2 separate regions of the Homo sapiens genome follow, and region 2 is linked to region 1. Evidence: fine-mapped expression QTL. Tissue or cell type: whole blood. Region 1 holds a variant in brackets; the other region holds the start of a gene. All regions are shown on one strand. Distances are between the middles of the regions.

Region 1 (10,685 bases):
TTTATCATATGTGTAGCCCATTTCCATAGTCAAGATACTCATCTATAACATCCTAAGATTCCTTTTTATTACCCCTTTATAGCCACAACCCTCCCCTGGCCCCTGGCCCCAACCCCTGGCAACCTCTTATGTGTCCCTTGTTTTGTAATTGTCTCGTAAATGGAATAATGCTATATGTATCCTGTTGAGATTGGCTTTTTCACTCAGCATAATTTTTTCTTGGGGTTCATCCAAGTTGTTGCATATATCGGTCATTCATTTTTATTGCCGAATAGTATTCCATGGCATGCATGTGCCACAGTTTGTTTAACTGTTCATCCATTGAAAGACATTAGTGTACTTTGCAGGTTTTGGCTGTTATCAACAAAGCCACTGTGAACATTTGTTTCCCACATCTGTTAATGAAAATTTTCACATACAGTTTAATGTTGTCATTAACCTTGGTGTTCTATGTTGGAATGTTTTCACTGTAAACTGTATTTAAGCAATAATACGTACCCATTTTTTTCTTTCATTATTTTTATATATCTGTGAATTAAATATGAAGAAATAGTTTTTATTTTTTGTTTTTTTTGGGGGGACAGGTTAATTTTAATGAATCTTATTATTTTATGATTTTATCATATGACTTTTATATAGGTAGGGAAAACTGGGACTTCGTCTACTCAGGTCAGTCATTGGACACCTTGGTTGTTCTGATTCATTGCTTGATACTCTTTTCAGGAGTGATTACCACACTTTGGAATATTAAATATATATATTAGTGATGTTTAGGAGGAAAGATTATGACTGATGAAATTTGTTGAATAAAGTGTATGTGGTAAACATTTGTGTGTCTATCCTTTGTTTAGGAAGTCGAGGCTCAAGAGGTTCTCAAATTGATAGTCACAGTAGTAATAGCAACTATCATGACAGCTGGGAAACTCGAAGTAGCTATCCTGAAAGAGATAGATATCCTGAAAGAGACAACAGAGATCAAGCAAGGGATTCTTCCTTTGAGAGAAGACATGGAGAGCGAGACCGTCGTGACAACAGAGAGAGAGGTTTGTCAAACAGAATTTTATTAAATAGTGAACAATATCAATTGGGCGAATTGTTTTTTCAAACAGTTACCAATTTACTTTTTAATATAAAATATACTTTAAGGCTTGTGCTCGATGACACATTTGAAACTATTATATATACTCATATAATCTTTGTTCACATGGTTTAGGAGGGATTATGTCAATAGCTAGTGACCAGTACCTACTGGCAACAAAGTGCAAAAACTTGGGTGCCCTACTGTGTGTTTCTCATCTTACCCAAATAGCTTACAAACCTTTAAAGAATGTAGATGGTTGGGTTCTATTCCAGGCAATTCTGATTCAAGAAATACCTAAACCTTTACATCTGAGTATCCTGTCTACTCACTCATTTGCTATGATCAATAGAATTTTATAAGGACTTCCAGAAAGGAACAGTAAAAAAAAACTGAATGATAGGGCTGGGGATTGTTTAGAGAAATATTTTATTTGTATTCTGTCCTGAGAAGATATGGTATTTGCTTTAGCTAATTTTACGTTCTTATATGTCTTAAGCTAAAACTTTTTCTGTTCATCTATCAGGTGATCTCTTAAATGAATTTTGAAGCAAGATTACTAGGAAGCACTTAAGAAGGGTTGTAAATACTTTCTTTGGCAAGCTTTTATTTCTGTACTTATTAGGGCCTTTAAACATTAAAAATTTTATGAAGGTCTTACTAACCTTGGCTGAAGTAAGGTTCACTATAATGCTGAGATTAATATAGCATGAAACTTGATGGCCCAGAGAATTGAATATTGATACTTTACTATGGGCTGAATCAAAGAGGTAATATTATATCTTGATTGGTTAGTAGTGGGAGAAGAATAAAGTTTCTAAGGCATCATCTACTTTTGGGAGCATAGATAGGATCAGAAGTAGGAGAATTGATTAGGTTGAGTTTATAAGGTAAGCCTAATGCATTTTGGTTAAAAGATGTGTAGAATTTCCTTAGTTACAGATAGGGCTGGAGTTTCTATGTTCTGTGTTGATATCTGAAATTTTTTCTTCCCTGGGACTTTTAGAACTGGTGATGCTTTTTTTTAAATTTCTTTTTTCCTTTTTTTCTATTTTCATATCCTTGCTCAGATTTTTCTCATCTCATGCCTGAATTCAATAGTAACATTTGGTTTCAATCTTATGGTTAGTTCAACCACATGTATTGATCTTCTACTAGGTGCCAAGAACTTTGATAGTTGCTTTACATATATTCTGACTTAGTCTTTACAATATCCTTGTAAGTGTAGGTATGATAAAATAATTCATGTTTTCACAGTTTTGGGGATTAGATCTAAGAGTAGTAAGATTACAATATTATAGAGAAGTAGGTTCCAGAGCTGGAATTCAAACTCAGGTCTTCTGACCAGAAGTTCAGTTCTCTATTTTAATTTTACTGTAACTACTTCAATAATTATGAGATGTATGATTGAAATAAAAATATATTTTGGAGGCTAATGAATATTTTACAAATATTTGTTGAGTACCCATGTCAGGCACTTTGCTAGGCACTTGAGGTACAATAATTTCTTGTCCTTGTAGAATTTAATGGGGAGAGGGAAGAACTCCCCACCCAAAAAAACAAAGTGTGATAAAATGCTACTACTGTATATAAAAGTTCTGTGAGAAGACAAAGGAGCAAACACAATTCTGAGCAATTCCAAGAAAGCTGCCTAAAGAAGTGACATCTGAATTAGGGCCTGAAGAATAAAAGGAAACTATAGAAGGAGCACTTTACAGGGAGAGGGTGCAGCATGTACAGACACCAGAACTGAAAGAAACATGTGCTTTGGAGTAGTAAGGAATTATGAGATTGGAGTCAGAGTATGCTATAATTGGCAAGGTAGAAAAGAAACCAGGGAAAAGGACTGATGAAAGACTATAGGCCAGGTAGTAAATGACCTAAGTTTAGCCTAGTCAGGCTAAAAAATTTGATTTTAATTGCCTTTCACTGCCTACAAGATAACTACTTTTAAACAGTTGGAAGAAATAATTTTCATCAAAAACATATTAAGGGTGTTGGGAAAGATTGAAAACAAGGATACCAATTAGTTAGACTGTTGATGACATAGGCATCTAAGAAGACCTGATCAAGGTCTGAGTTAATAACTATAGCTATGGGGACAGGAAAAGGAACAAAGAAATATTTTAGAAGTGAAGTTGATTGTACTTGGATATGATGAGGCTTAGACAACCCAGAGATTGTCAGCTTTAATGAATTGGTATGTCATTTATTAAAATAAGGAAATATGTAAGTAGAAGCACATCTTTGAATAACACATTTTGGGGGAAAGATAGGGGAAGATAATTTAGACATTTTAAAGTGATGTTCTTATATTCTTTCCATTTTCCTTTGAAGAAAGTAGCATTGATATTTTGGTTGGGAAAATACATCTCCCATAAAAGCATGTCTGAATAGTCTATTTGCTGATATTGCTGTAATTAGAAATTTAAAGTATGATTTGCTATAAGTTAATGGTATTGAATTTGTTTCAGGTTATCTTGTAATGATTATGATGTTGGTATGACTCCTCCAAACCAGGAATTCAGACAATACAAAAGATGGGTAGATAGCATTCTAGGAATCCAAAGTATGGTACAGAAGAACCACTTTAAGTTGGTTTCAGCAAAAGTGAAAGGGTTTAAGAAAACTGACTTCTAATGCATCTACCATCTCTGTGACATTGGGAAGACAACTCTGGACCATAATTTCTGTTTTTAAATAGAAAGGGGGAGAAGCAACTGTGTAGGATTTCATTTTGATTCAGCTTTAAAATGCTATGATCATTTGTATCTGGGTCTATAACCTCTAAAATAGTAAAGATAAGATAATTCTTGTCTTTTCAATCAGTGATTAGGAAGGGAAATCCAGAATACTGTATTGAACCCTTCCTAGAAACATCCTAAAATTGTTCTGCTTAATGAGTTGATGTTAGATGTTCCACTTACCAACCTGTTGGCCTGATTATAATATGATCTTTATCAAAAACCAGTAGATATATAGTATGTAAATGGAAACATCACAGTATCCTAGATCAGACCGCAGTAGTTGCTTTCAAAAATGGCTGTCTCTTTGAAAAAGTTCATGCCATCCTCTTAAACGTTTTTTTATCCCAGACTAATTTTCTGCTCAACTGGGTATTTGGGCAGCATGCATTCATTTACTCTGTGTTTATGTGATTTGTGTGTACATGGAAAAAATTTATATAAAATGTGATGAGGTTATCAGTTAACATTTTAAGAAAACAGCTCTTCATCTGAGTAATCATTTATGTAATTAAAGCTAATTTATTAGTAATTGGTTATTAATTACAAATATATATCACTAATATGAAACACTTTTTACATTTATTTCAAGATTGCTAGACATCAGTACCCTTAATATTACAGTTCATGTTATATTGCAGCAACAAATTCTGACATATGTTTTGTTCTACTATATTTTCCTCACATAATAGCTGCACTTTGATGTGTATATATTTTGGCCTGAA[A/G]TTAGAGGTGTGACTTACGAGGGAAATTTTTTTTTTCCTTCAGCTCCTATGTTCTACACCTCCTGCTGCCCCTATCCTTTGCCACCAGTGTTCTCAGGTCCTGCTGGGGGGACAGAGAAGATCAGAGGTGAAGGGTAGAGATGGCAGAAAGTGGGGTTGGAGCAGTGGGCTGGAGGTAGGGTAGGGAGCATGCAGAGAAAGATCAAAGATTGATCAGTGGGAGGGGGGAAGGGGGTTGACGGGGAGCAGGAAACATGGTCGTTAGAGGGCAAATAAAAATTATCTTTAAAAAATTTAAGGTCTAGGGGCGATTGTTACTTGGATATTAAGTTAAAATTAAATATGCTACTTGGTTTGTAATTTGTTGCCAGTGTGACCCTATCACAGATAAAATTTAAGATTTACCATGCTGTCTTACCAATAGGTTATCTGTCAAATTAATCACTGACAAAACTTGATTTTCATTGTAGATCAAAGACCAAGCTCACCAATTCGACATCAGGGAAGGAATGACGAGCTTGAGCGTGATGAAAGAAGAGAGGAACGAAGAGTAGACAGAGTGGATGATAGGAGAGATGAAAGGGCTAGAGAGAGAGATCGGGAACGAGAACGAGACAGGGAGCGGGAGAGAGAGAGGGAACGTGAACGGGATCGGGAAAGAGAAAAAGAGAGAGAACTAGAAAGAGAGCGTGCTAGGGAACGGGAGAGAGAAAGAGAAAAAGAGAGAGATCGTGAAAGGGATAGAGACCGAGACCACGATCGAGAGCGGGAAAGAGAGAGGGAACGAGACAGGGAAAAAGAACGGGAACGAGAAAGAGAAGAGAGAGAGAGGGAGAGAGAGCGAGAACGGGAGAGAGAGCGAGAGCGAGAACGGGAACGAGAAAGAGCGAGAGAAAGGGATAAAGAACGAGAACGCCAAAGGGATTGGGAAGACAAAGACAAAGGACGAGATGACCGCAGAGAAAAGCGAGAAGAGATCCGAGAAGATAGGAATCCAAGAGATGGACATGATGAAAGAAAATCAAAGTAAGAATAATTATCAGTTATTAATAACATTTTACATTTCAGGAAAGAATTCAAAGTTTCATTTAATGCTTTTCAATATACTCTTAATTTCCTGTTAATTTTTTTTCTCTGTATATTTTCCTGTTTTTCAAATTTAGTATATGTATCGGTGTTTAAAGTTTTTTTACCCAGCACTTTGGGAGGCCGAGGCAGGCAGATTCCTTCAGGCCAGGAGTTTGAGACCAGCCTGGGCAACATGGCAAAACTCCATCTCTACAGAAAATACAAAAATTAGCCGGACGTGGTGGCACGTGCCTGTATCCCAGCTACTTGGGAGGCTGAGATGGGAGGATTGTTTGAACCTGAGAGGCAGAGGTTGCAGTGAGCCAAGATTATGTCATTGCACTCCAGCCTGGGTCGAGACCTTGTCTCAGGAAAAAAAAAAAAAGTTTTTTCAGTTGTCTAGAAAAAATAATTTTTAAATTAAGACAGGAATCAGTGAACTTGTATCCCATCACATCCCCTAGACTAGTCACCAAGGGATATCACCTGTGCCATTCTGATGATCCTTCATGACTTTTATGTGCTTGTAATTATGGAGTCACTACCCCCAGGCTACAGGAAGCATTCACAATGTCTTGGAACTGAGGGAATCCTTGTAATCACTGCATGGTTCGAAGATGAGAGAAAAGGAAGTGTCTTCTCTTGTGCTGTGGAGTAGTTCTTTGGGGTCAAAAAATGTGTTCTTGGCATCTGATATACCTAAGGGCATTCTCCCACCTCACCCCCTTTTAACCAGAAAAGAACTTATTGCTCAAATATCTAGGAAGTTGGAGATTAGCTTTTGCTTGTTCTGATGTGGCTATATCCAGATTCTCAAACAAAGCATTAGCAGTTTCCATCTCTCCAGTTTCCCTCTGTATTAATTTCAGTCTCAGAAAGGTTTTCTCCATATGATGGCTAAGATGGCCCCAGAGTTGTCCCTGTCAGCTTAGCAGTCCTCTCTGAGTTGGGGCTCTCATTAGTTGGTGAGGAGACAGTTATTGACTAAGCTGATCACAGTGTTCATGAGAATTCTAGACTCAGATTGGTCAATTTTGAAGTTCTGTGGGCACAAAACCAAACTTACTAGAGTTAACTACTTTTTTGCCTCCAACTGGGATAAACACTGTGGTTTACCTTGCCAAAACATACTGAGAAAATAATTTATGTATCTTCAATTTTCTTGCTCTTACCTCCAACTCATTTGCCACAGGGCGAATACAGGGTCCCTGCTTTAGGCTTTTTTCATCCTCACTATTGTGGATTATGGTTAGGGCCAAACAACACAGCACAGAAGTAGAACTTTCTTCCCTTAGGTCTTGGCTGTTCTTTAATCTACAGCCATGGTTTTCTGTAGTACACTCCTTGGATTACTTTCCTGCTTCCCTCTCCTTACATTTTGAAAAATCTTACCTGAACATAAACTTCAGAGATACCTTTTTTAACACATGGAGGCACAGGTACATATTCCCACCCTCCCCACCCGCTACTTTTCTGACCTCTTTATTTTCTAAGATTAAAATTCTGAAATCTTTGTTATTTATCTTTTATTCAGTCCTCTGCTTTCATTAGTACAGATTGAGCATCCCAAATCCAAAAATTCAGAATTTGAAATGCTCCAAAATCTAATGTTTTTTAAACACTGACATGGCACTCAGAGGAAATGCTCATTGGAACATTTCAGATTTTCACATGAAGGATGCACAACCAGTAAGTACAATGCAAATATTCAAAACCTAAAGCATTTCATGGATAAGGGATACGCAACCTGTATTTTTTTCATGCTTCTGATATCTGCTTATAATAGCAAAAGTTTTTCTGGTTTTTCATGGTTAGACAATCTAAGAGTTGACAATGACCCCAGAAATTTAGAAGTTGAATAACTCTATAACAGAAACTAATTACATGAGATTAATATCTTAATCTTTCATTAACTGTATTGTCATCTCAGTAGTTCAATTTATCCAGCACTTTTTTTAACTGCTCTTATGTAGAACGTTTGCCTAATTGCTGTATTTATTTTACTCTAATTGTGTTTATTTAGGTATTTCCTTGAAATAACTTTTTCTCATGTTTTAAATTTTCACTTTATTCCAGTCTGTCAGTTATCTCTTGATATATAACACATCACCACATAAGTTAGTAGCTTAAAACAACAACCATTTATTTGCTCATGATTCTGTGGATTGGCAGTTTTGCCTGGGCTCAATAGAGTGGTTGTTCTGTTGGTCTCACTTGGAGTAACTCCTGTATCAACATTACATCTGACAATGCAGCTGGGCCTGGAGGCCCAGGATTGTCTCATTCATGTGTCTGGCAATTAGGGCATCTTGTTTCTCCTCCACTTGACCCCCTGGCCTTCAGTAGTCTAAACTCTGCTTTGCATGTAATGGTAGAAACAACAAGAGGGCAGAAGCTGAAGCAGCAAGGCCTCCTGAATCCTCTTCACATTTGCACAGTGTCACTTTCACCACATTCTCTTGTCATAGCAAGTCATTAGATATGAAAAATGGGGAAATAGGCCAGTTATTGATGGGAGAGGAGCTTTGGATAAAGTAGTACACAAGCTTGGGCCTGTGAGTTGTCATATTACACCTGGGGCCTTCTCCACATGGTTGTTCATCTATATAAAGGAGCTGTCTATGATATACATGTGCTGGTATGTTTTTGTTTTATTTTTATTTCAATAGCTTTTAGGGTACAAGAGGTTTTTGGTTACCTGGATGAATTCAGAGATTTTAGTGCACCTGTCACCTGAGTAGTCCACATTGTACCAAACATGTACGTTTTTATCCCTCACTCCCCTTCCACCCTCCCCCTTCTGAGTCTCCAAAGCCCATTATATCACTCTGTATGCCTTTGCATACTCATAGCTTAGCTCTCACTTACAGGTGAGAACAAGTTGCTGCAAAAGACATTATTTTTTTCCTTTTTATGGCTGAGTAGTAGTCCATGGTTTCATGGTGTATATATACCACATTTTCTTTATCCACCCATTGGCCAATGGGCACTTAGGTTGGTTCTATATCTTTACAGTTGTGAATTTTGCTGCTATAAACATATATGTGCATGTTTTTTTTTTTCATATAATGACTTCTTTTCCTTTGGGTAGATACCCAGTAGTGGGATTGCTGGATCAAATATCTCCTTTTAGTTCTTTAGGGACTCTCCATACTGTTTTTCATAGAGGTTGTACTTATTTACATACCCACCAGCAGTGAATAAGCATTCCCTTTTCACCATGTCTATGCTAACATCTCCTGTTTTTTTTACTTTTTAATGGCCATTTTTGTAGGAGTAAGGTGGCATCTCATTGTGGTTTTTAATTTGTATTTCCCTGATGATTAGTGATTTTGAGCATTTTTTCATACGTTTGTTGGCTGTTTGTATGTCTTCTTTTGAGAAATGTCTATTCGTGTCCTTTATCCACTTTTTGATGGGATTATTTATGTTTTTCTTGCTGATTTATTTGAGTTTCTTATAGATTCTGGATACTAGTCCTTTGTTGGATACATAGTTTGCAAACATTTTCTCCCATTCTATGGGTTGTCTTTGTTATTTATTTTGCTGTGCAGAAGCTTTTTAGTTTAATTAGGTTCCATTTATTTATTTTTGGTTTCGTTGCGTTTGCTTTTAGAATCTTGGCCATGAAGTCTTTGCCTAGGCCAGTGTCCAAAAGAGTTTTCCCAGTGTTAATTTCTAGAATTTTAATGGTTTCAGGTTTTAGATTTAAGTCTTTGATCCTTCTTGAGCTGATTTTTGTTTGAGCTGAGAGGGATCCGGTTTCATTCTTTTACATGTGACTTGCCAATTTTCCCACCACCATTTAGTAAATAGAGTGTCCTTTCCCCAGTTATGTTTTGTATGCTTTTGCTGAAGATCATTTGGCTTTATTTCTGGGTTTTCTATTCTGTTCCATTGGTCCATGTATACAATATGTTTCTTAACTTTTGACCATAGTATTTATAAACAAACAATGTTAGTGAAAAAACAGGTAGTCAAATTTTAATGAAAATGGGGGAAAACACTAGAATAATTTAAGTACCCAAGAGATATAAAACGCTACTCATTTAAAGCTCAACTAAGGAACAAAAAATATAATGAACGTATGAATTATTTTATTAATTTGTCAGCAAGAAAGTGATTTCCATGAAGGGGAAAGGAACTAATTTTATGGTGTACCCACAACATATTTGGCACTGGGTTTATGACATAACTAATTTATTCCTTACTGCAATTTTATGAAATGGACTCTCATTTCCCACCCATTCAGCCCCACCCACCATTTTCAGATGAGAAACTAAGGTTCAGTGACTTCAAGGAACTTACTTAAGGCTGCGTAATAACTAATGTAGTTATAAGTTGAACTCATAGCTTTTTTACTTCAAAGCCAATATTAGGTTTTCTCATTCAGCTCTGCAGCATAAGGCATTTTTATATCATAAGAATGCAAAATTGCTGAATGTTTATATCAGAGGGTACATTAATATATTGGTTTCTGTGCTGCATGTTACCACCTTACAGTATTTAAATCTGGCAATTTTCACTTGAGTTATTCTACATGTATAATGAAGAAGAAGAAGAAATGTTGTGTATTTTAAGTTCACAATTCTTAGCAAATGAAGTAAAGAATTTGTATTAAAGACACTGAATATCCTTTGTATGATACACTCTGGCAATATTGCTTTCCTACAATTATATGTTCCAGTTATAGTAAAGAGATACTAGTAAAAACAAAAAAATCTCTTTTTTTGCCCCCTAGAATTTTATAAATTGTGTTTGCTTGTCCAATTTAGGAAGCGCTATAGAAATGAAGGGAGTCCCAGCCCTAGACAGTCCCCGAAGCGCCGGCGTGAACATTCTCCGGACAGTGATGCCTACAACAGTGGAGATGATAAAAGTAAGCAGACTCTGTTTTCTGTCTCTCTATATTCATATTCATTTGTAACCATGAAACCATCCTTTCATACTAGTAGGAACTGATGAATTAAGATTTTTAAAAAGTTGTCTTGCTTTGCTGCCTCTAAATATCTCCTTTTGTGACTAAAGTATGTGTTAGAGTACTGTCATTTTCTACTATTTATAGTAAAG
Region 2 (9,342 bases), 77 kb before region 1:
AAATTTATCATGATTTGGGAAGTAGAATTAGTCTAATTATGCTTTTTTTTTTTTGCATCACTGCCAGCACACATATATGTTGAGAGCCATTACGTGTAAAATACCTTGTCAATGGATGTTTAAAGAAGCATTAGGTAAAATCCTGCCCTTTAAGAGAATGTGTTATGGTTAGGGAGCTCAACCATTAGCAAATGTTACAAATAGTTGTACTCTAAGGCGACATAGAGTAACTACTAAATACGTGGCACAGACAGTACAACTCACTTCTAACTAGAATATCAAGGGATGGCTTCACTAATGCATTCAGAGGGAAATGCTGAGATAAGTGAGGAGATAAAGTAGTTACTGTCCTTGAGGAATTTACAATCTATTAAGGGGGGGAAAAACTACAAATAATAAAGTGCTGTTGATGTCAAAGATCAGCTACATTTTAGACAGGCATTGAAAGAGGATTTCTATAGGCAGACAGGGAAGGAAGGACCTTCCAAGCAAAGAAGTTGGTGTTCACCATAAGAGGATGCAAAAGTGGAGGGTGATAGCATCAGAAAGTAGATTAGGTTGGCTTCTGAAGGGGTGTGACTGTCAGATAAATTTGTATTTCATTATGTAGACAATGGGGTTACATTAAAACTTATTTTTTGAACAATGAGATGGCATAAAATAATATCCGCTGATAAATCTCTTGAGTTTTTCAAGAAGGTGACAGTGTATACCATGATGCTAGTTCCAATTTCCGAAAAGTTCCAGATAAGTGAGAACTTCAGAATAGATTTGACAAAATGAATATCAACAGACAAAATGAAGTCAAATGGGGGTCTTAGTTATTATCCTGCTCCATACCAGAGGCATAATCTTTTTTGATTTGATGAATCTATGGAAGTCATTAGACATTTTACACAAGAAGAAAATAGAAGTTGTGAGAAGGATAAGAAGTGAGTCATGCATGCATTAGGTGTTTGTATGTGTTTAGAAAGGTTGGATTTAAAGTTTGGTGATAATTTTGTTCAGAAATGGAGTACCTCTAAGCCTTTGAGATGTAGTTATACTTCATTTTCCATAATAAATGAGTTCCCAAAAAGGCATGTGATAATTTTTTTCTGCAAATTAATATATTTATTTATATAAATTATTTCAATATATTGAAATAGTTTATGTTTAAAGCCACCCAATTGTGATTGCCATAAAGTGCACATATTTTAAATTAATTTGTTTACCTTATTTATTTGCCTTTTAGATGAATCTAGATTTTCTACCTGTATACTTTGATTCAATTAATGTATGATTATTTTTTAGAAACTTCTACTTGTCATGTTTCAAAGCTGCACATTAACTGAAATTCTATATCTTGTTGCTTCCAGTCTCTAGTAGCCAGTGAAGCAGTTCGTGCTATTGAGAAAATTAGTAAAAATACCAGGTATACACATGGCCATGGCTCAGAAACCTTATGTAAGTATTTCTTCTTATGATCTTAGAGAACTTTGAGCTACTAAAGAAATCTGTGTGATCTGTTTTTCTTTGTGTATTTAATTTTTCTGAATTAAATAGGGTCACATGTAATACAACTGAATTGTAATAATTAGGAACAGAAGCATAATAGCTATGACAATGCTGAACAAAGCTATATTAATAAATGAGTTACTAAAAAGAAGCCAAAATCCTATTTAAGAAATCATATTTATCACAATCAAGTAGGAATTACAGAATTGGCATCATACTAGTTGAGTGAAGCAGAAAAGTTCATAAAACTTTTGCATGATTCCCAGGGCCACCATGGAAGGTTGTGCAGGTTGTACACTACACTAATCTAGGGCATGCCATTTGCATCAAGTGTTTTTTAGTGTTAGCCTGTTCCCAAGAGTATAGCTCATAACACATTACAGTTGATTGTCTTTAATATATATTACACACACAAAACTTGTGACAAACTCTTAACAAAAAGTTTTGATTAATTTTTGCTGAAAGATATTTAGTGAGTAACTCCTATCTACACACAGTGGGAGGACAGACTGATTTTGCCCTTTTGAAGTTTGAAGGGAGATGGGAAAAGAGGAGCATAAAATAAACCTGTAACCAGGCATCAGAAAACTACAGCCTGAAGGCCAAATCCAGGTTTTTCCTTTTTTTTTTTTTTTTAATGATTAGAAAAAAACAAAAAGAGGCCAGGTGCTGTGGCTCATGCCTGTAATACCAGCACTTTGGGAGGCTGAGGCAGGAGGATCACTTGAGGTCAGGAGTTCGAGACCAGACTGGCCAACATGGTGAAACCCTGTCTCTACTAAAAATACAAAAATTAGCTGGGCATGGTGGCAGGCGCCTGTAATGCCAGCTACTTGGTTGGCTAATGCATAAGAATTACTTGAACCTGGGAGGTGGGGGTGGCAATGAGCTGAGATTGTGCAACTGCACTCTAGCCTGGGTGACAGAGTGAGACTCCATCTCAAAAAAGGTCGAAACTGTATTTATCATGAACACTAAAATATGTACACATTTTAGTTAACATGCATTAAACTGTAACAAGTCTTCTGGCAATTGTAGCTTTCATGAGATGCTTCCCAAACTGTATTAGATAGATGCTAAAATTATAAATTAAAATTTTGGGTCAGACTTTGCCATAAACCTGGACTCAATTTAGCACCCCCCCAAAAAAAGTCAGATTATTCAATTAATGCGGTTGGAAAACCTAACAAGTTACCTAGAAAAAAATTAATTGGATTATTAACATGTCTTTCACCAAAGTAAATTCCAGGTACAGCATATATTTTCATATGAAAACCCTGCATAAACCAAGTTGAAATCTCAGTAAGGAGAAAAAATTCTTGTGAAAGGAGAAATGAATGAAAGGAGAAAAAAAGGTCTACATGCCAAACAAAGCTAATAACACTAATGTCGTTTTTATAAGCAATTGATAAAATGAACCAAGTAGACAAATGAGGAAGGACAATTGATAGGAAATATAAAGATAGCCAATAAATATGCCAAACAAATGTGCAACTCACTGATAATCAAAAAACATAAATTAAGACAGTTGGATATTATTTTTCGCCCATAAAATTATCAGAATTCATAATTCCTATTGATGGTATGGGAAGGGGAAATGGGCAAATTCATACCCTGCTTGTGGAAGTATAAATGAATTCAGTTCTTTTGACGTCCATTTGGGAACATGCCGTAATTGCAAAAAGTACAGAGCCTTAGACTAGCAAATCTATTCTAGGGAAGAATATTCTAAAGAGACAAAGAAGCAATTATGTATAAACAAGGGTACTCATTGTAAAGTTGTTTATATTAGTTAAAAACTGAAAAAAATCTAAAGGTATACAAACAAATAAACATTTAAATCAAACAATTCCCAGTTTGTAAATTAATTTGAAACGTCTGTATTTCAACAATTTCTTTCTTCTTCTTTTAGACCTAGCTCCTGGAGGTGGGGACGATTGGATCTATGATTTGGGCATCAAATATTCGTTTACAATTGAACTTCGAGATACGGGCACATACGGATTCTTGCTGCCGGAGCGTTACATCAAACCCACCTGTAGAGAAGCTTTTGCCGCTGTCTCTAAAATAGCTTGGCATGTCATTAGGAATGTTTAATGCCCCTGATTTTATCATTCTGCTTCCGTATTTTAATTTACTGATTCCAGCAAGACCAAATCATTGTATCAAATTATTTTTAAGTTTTATCCGTAGTTTTGATAAAAGATTTTCCTATTCCTTGGTTCTGTCAGAGAACCTAATAAGTGCTACTTTGCCATTAAGGCAGACTAGGGTTCATGTCTTTTTACCCTTTAAAAAAAATTGTAAAAGTCTAGTTACCTACTTTTTCTTTGATTTTCGACGTTTGACTAGCCATCTCAAGCAAGTTTCGACGTTTGACTAGCCATCTCAAGCAAGTTTAATCAATGATCATCTCACGCTGATCATTGGATCCTACTCAACAAAAGGAAGGGTGGTCAGAAGTACATTAAAGATTTCTGCTCCAAATTTTCAATAAATTTCTGCTTGTGCCTTTAGAAATACAACCATGCATTCCGTTTGCTCCACGGTAATTAGGCGATGGCCCAGAAAGGGGAGGGGTGTCAAAAACGACAAACATAGCCTCTCATTCCAGCTCAGCTGCTCAATAAACACTGTTGAACGAATGAATGAGTGGCTCTAGGTACTGTCAACAAATGCCGCATTTTGCGCATTTACAACAGCTGTTTATGGTAAGGAATTATGTAATAAAAAGAGAAAACTCACTTAAATTCACTTTTAATTGGGAATTTTAGTTCTCCCGGGCTCCCAGTTTCCTTTCCTAGGATCTCTCACAGAGCACAGATTCGATTTCCAAGTCCCGCCGCACTCTTACCGCTCGCATGGAACCTTACGCCTAGAGGGCGTGTCCACGAAGGGTGGTGTCTGCGCACTGACGACTAATCTGACGGCCGGAAGCTGCCTGGGTCTACAGAGGAACAGGGCAAACCTCTGACTTCCGGCGGCATTTTGAGGCGGTCCTCCTAGCGGCCTGGTAGTGTTTTTGTTGCCTTTTCTTAATCTACAATCTCTTCGTTATTTTTCTTCCTGCGACCCAGTTTCGCTTGACCCTGGAGAGGCGGCGGGCGGGTTGGTTCTGCTTCTCAGCCATCCCGGGGGCTCCTCGCTAGCCAAGAGCCGGTTCCCGGGAGCCGCGCGCGCATCGCTTTCTCCTCGTCGTCGTCCTCCTGGGTCCAGGCGCGGGGACAGAGTCGCCTCCCCCGCTCCTCGGAGCGGCGGCGGCGGTGGTGCCTCCGGACTGCACTTGCGAAGGGAGCTTGGGGAGGAAGTAAGCGTTCTGTGAATTGGTGTGGGTATCTGGGGAAGGCATTGAGCGGACCCGTAATGCGGAGGCCCGGGTTACCCCCCCCCGTCTTTGCTTGAGTCACTGGGATTTTGAGCTTTCCTTGAGCATCCCACCCTTAACTCTGCAATAGCCCCCTGTGCTCAGGCGTAATTTCTCACTCTGATTATGATTCTGGCATTTGTCTAAGGGCGATAAGTAGACTCAGACAATAGGCTGTACCCCTCGTTACCATTTGATGTAAGCACGGGAACCCTTGTATGGTGTTCGTATTTGTGTGCGATGGAAGGGTGCAGCAATTTGGGCTTAAATTTAGAATCTTCCTCTATACTCATTCCAGATCTGTTAGAGAAAAACATCTTACTTGTGATTGGTCTTGTTTTTTTTTTTTTCCCTCAGCAGTGATAACGATTTAGGTCCTGGGAATTGAGTGCTACTTTATCTTCACAAGCCTTAGGTAGGTAGTTTTGGCAACTGTCAGAAACGGGGGAAAGTGGAATAGAAAGAAGAGAGTCTGTTTGGCGGCATTATCTCTCTGTAATAGGCTAACGCAATTTATGTGGTTTGAAAATTATTTAGAGTTGATAATACTTGAATTATGTTGGTAAGATGTTGTTTGTGAAGGGTAGTCTTAAGGTATTTGGTTATACTATGGGGCTTTCAGGTAATTCGAACTACTTTGAAAATTATGGGAGTATGAAGTCTCTTAAGATTTTTGGATTTTTAAAGTAGTTTTAAAAATTTGGAAAACATCTTTACACCTCAAGTTTTCGAAGTCCGCGATACCGTTGGAGAATAAATACTTATGCAGTTCAGTCTATGGGTATATGGTGCCAGTTAGCGGGGTCTAGTTCTGTAACATTTGAAATTACTGGCTTTAGTACAATATATTGGAGCGTTTTGTGAATACAATCTATAGATTTTCAAATAATTTTTATTTTCTTAATGAACTATTTAGATTATAACAGATGACAGTTTCAACTAGAGACTAGCAAAGTTGATGCAAGCTTGTAACAATTGCGGCTTTAAAAATAGTTGCACTCTGAAACTAAGGCTTTCACTCTGTGCATCTGGTAGGATTCAGTTTTATCAAATGTATGCCTCTTACTGGCTTCCTGATTACTGGTCATTCTAAATGAACATTGCATATTTTGAGATTTGCAAGCTTATGTGATTTTCATATTTGTAATATGAATTTAACATACTAAAAATCCAGCAAGTGGATGGTATCTTAACATCTTTACAAATTATTAAAATTGTAATATCATCAGTATTTATAATATGCATTGGCATTTACATAGAGGAAACACATTGTTTAACTTAAATTTACTTAGAGAGTTGGTTTTCAGTGGATGATAGTCTTCCTCACCTCCTCATCTCTCCCAACTCCATCTCATATAGAGGTGGAGCTATTTCTCCAGCTGTTAGTAGTAGTTGAAGCATTAACTGCTGTTGATATAGAAAGAGTCTTTTATTCTTTTTTTTTTGTATTTTTGTATGATGCAGTTCTTTTTACTTCACTTTAGAGTAGCTACCAGCATGGGATGTTTTCTGTGCACAGTCTTTTTAACAAATTGTTTTTTCTGCATAGTACTGCAGTGTTGCTTTGCTAATTCCTATGTAGTCAGCTTAGTTCTGTCAGTTGTATTTGGAATTTAGTTTGGAATTGTTTTAGCATTAAATTTACGGAAGCAATCTGAAAGTTTGTTTTAGAAAGTTCTTTTTAAAAAATTCTCTCAAACTATGCATCAAATAAAGTTAATTTTTCTTTCTAAAAATATGAAGTATAAATGTGAAGATACCTTATTTTTAGTATCACCTTTTTAATCTTAGAAATTCAGAGTATAGGGATTTATCCTACTAGTTAGTACATTCATGTAGTTTTAATTGCCTAATTGTTTGAAATTTCCCTAATATTATGCCGCTACTCATCCGGATTAAAGTGTTATGCTTTCACTTATGCTTCCAGTAGATGAGACCTGGAAAAGATAATTAATTATGGATTGAAGTGAAGATACTAGAACGCATATGTGTTTATTGACAAGATTTTATTAATTGAGCTTCTGGAGTCATTATTCAAAAAGAGACCCTTTTGTATGCTTCTCCTTTCTCAGCCATAATTATAATGTGAACCTTCTGAGTACAGTGTTATTCTAAGTTTCTCGGGGCAAGGGAGCAGTTCCCATTTAAGACCCTCTTTTGTTGTGTCTTTATTAATAGACTCAAACTTTGTGTCCCGGATTTTCTTTTTCTTTTTCCATTTTCTTTTTTAATTGAAAAGAGATTATAAAGACTTCAGATATTCATTTGCTCTGCAAATGGAGAGGAGAAATAGGAAAATAACGAAATAGGCTTTCACTAGTGCCACTCTGTCTTTGATAATGCTCGTGTTTGAGAAAGACTTGATGATGTGGGTGGAAGTGTGATGGCAACTTAAACCAAATAATAATTTGAAAACAAAAATGGAGGAAAACCTTCATAGAAGAGTAAATTAGTAAGTTATTGGTATGACCTTGATTTCTATTCTCTATGATAGGAAAGACTTTAGTATTTACATTTTTATCTTATGGTTTCTAATTTTTCTCATATACTTTGAAGCATTTACTTGTCATGTTCAGCCTGTTCATACATAATTTGAAAAAGTTTCCCGCCCCGAAAATCTACATTTTAACTGTTGTGGTGTTCATTTTCCTTTACGGGCCCAAAGTTTTAAATAGGATTGAAAATTCTAATTGTCACATTAGTTGGTAACATTTAGTTTTAATATATGAAAAAGGAAATGTTTTTCTGCTGTATTGTAGATAGTGTGTATATTTTTAGATAAATGGGATTTTTAAAGTTATATATTGTGTTCTTTACAAGCATGAAGCATTTTGTTTATTCAAATTCATGAATGTCTCATTAGTAATATTTAAGTAACATTTTATTGTTGACTACTTGTGGAAGTTTTTACATGGATGATCAGAAGAATTTTTTCAGTTAGAAATCTTCAGTTTCTGCTTTTTTCTTTTTTCACCAGACGTTTTACACACACACATATATATATCACATTAAAGAACATTTTATTAAGAATATGTGTGTGTGTATTATTGTTGTCATTATTCTTGTTTTAAATGTTCAGTCCAGGACCTTGCTGTAACCCAGACCGCATACTCAGATGCTGTATTACTTTAGGACAAAGTATGGTACTCTTGGAGTCTGAGAAAAAGTAGAGTACATCTTTTTTTTTTTTTTTTTTGAGACGGAGTCTCCCTCTGTTGCCAGGTTGGAGTGCAGTGGCGCGATCTCGGCTCACTGCAACCTCCACCTCCCGGGTTCAAGCGATTCTCCTGCCTCAGCTTCCCGAGTAGCTGGGATTACAGGCGTGCACCGCCACACCCAGCTAATTTTTGTATTTTTAGTAGAGACGGGGTTTCACCATGTTGGCCAGGATGGTCTCGATCTGTTGGCCAGGATGGTCTCAATCTCTTGACCTCGTGATCCGCCTGCCTTGGCCTCCCAAAGTGCTGGGATTACAGGCGTGAGTCACTGCGCTTGGCCACATTTTTACTTAATTTCATTTCTTCGCTAAATTGGGAGACTCAGTACAGTAGTAGCTGCAAGTGAAATTCCTGGGATAATTACTATGTAGGTGAATCTTGAATAGTTCTTGATGTCACTGGTAAAAGCAATTTTGTCTCTGTGGAAAGAATATGGGCGTAGGGTGAGGGAGGTGAGGAGGTGGATCATTAGTCTTCACTTGATTGTCTTTCATAGCAAGTCCAACCCTTGAAATCTTCAAAGTTTTTTTTTTTTTTTTTTTTTTTTTGAGGCGGAGTCTCACTCTGTCACCCAGGCTGGAGTGCAGTGGCGCAATCTCGGCTCACTGCAAGCTCCGCCTCCCGGGTTCACGCCATTCTCCCGCCTCAGCCTCCCGAGTAGCTGGGACTACAGGCGCCTGCCACCACGCCCGGCTAATTTTGTTTTTGTATTTTTAGTAGAGACAGGGTTTCACCATGTTAGCCAGCATGGTCTCGATCTCCTGACTTCGTGATCCGCCCGCCTCGGCCTCCCAAAGTGCTGGGATTACAGGCGTGAGCCACCGCGCCCGGCGAAATCTTCAAAGTTTGCCTTAGGGAGTCTAGGATTGGAGAGAAGCTCTCAGACCAGCAAAGCAATAGGTCAAGGGAGGAGAGTAGTGCGAATCAGGCAACAGAGGACAGACCAGAAAAAGAAACTGTAGAGTTAATACCTGGAACCCTCAAAAAGTAAAAAGAAAGGAGATGATAGATGACCAATGTTTTAAGTATAATAAGTACGATAATAAATAGCCTGTCGTCCTAACTGGAAACCATTACCATTGAATTTTTTGAAGGAGACTGAGCTGGGAGTGGAGGCATGTTGGGGGTAGTAGAGATGTTGGGGGCAGAACTAACTCATTTCCAGTGACAGTGGAGGGAAAAATAAAAAATTAGTGTTAGTCCACTTGAGGCAGTGTGGTGGGATGGTTGTGCCTGTTTTCTAAGTTCTACATAACTAGCAAA

The links. PIP is the estimated chance that this variant, and not a neighbour inherited with it, causes the effect.
Region 2: ZC3H13 starts here. The variant in region 1 is fine-mapped to the expression of ZC3H13 in whole blood (INTERVAL, PIP 0.99).

The regions. Positions count from the first base shown.
Region 1 is chr13:45,970,171-45,980,855 of GRCh38, reverse strand. ZC3H13 (zinc finger CCCH-type containing 13) reads left to right here. Exons shown (of 19, transcript NM_001330564.2): 11 at 852-1,043; 12 at 5,018-5,573; 13 at 10,391-10,494. Among named protein-coding and RNA genes, the nearest start is that of ZC3H13, 77 kb to the left of the region's middle. The variant A/G (reference allele first, on the strand shown) is at 4,548.
Region 2 is chr13:46,047,866-46,057,207 of GRCh38, reverse strand. ZC3H13 (zinc finger CCCH-type containing 13) reads left to right here and starts at 4,462. Exons shown (of 19, transcript NM_001330564.2): 1 at 4,462-4,804. CPB2 (carboxypeptidase B2) reads left to right here. Exons shown (of 11, transcript NM_001872.5): 10 at 1,359-1,446; 11 at 3,410-4,022. The coding sequence ends at 3,594. It overlaps CPB2-AS1 (CPB2 antisense RNA 1), which reads right to left and starts at 4,360. Exons shown (of 3, transcript NR_046227.1): 1 at 4,243-4,360. RefSeq lists enhancers at 4,297-4,496, 4,507-4,676, 4,206-4,741, 4,742-5,278.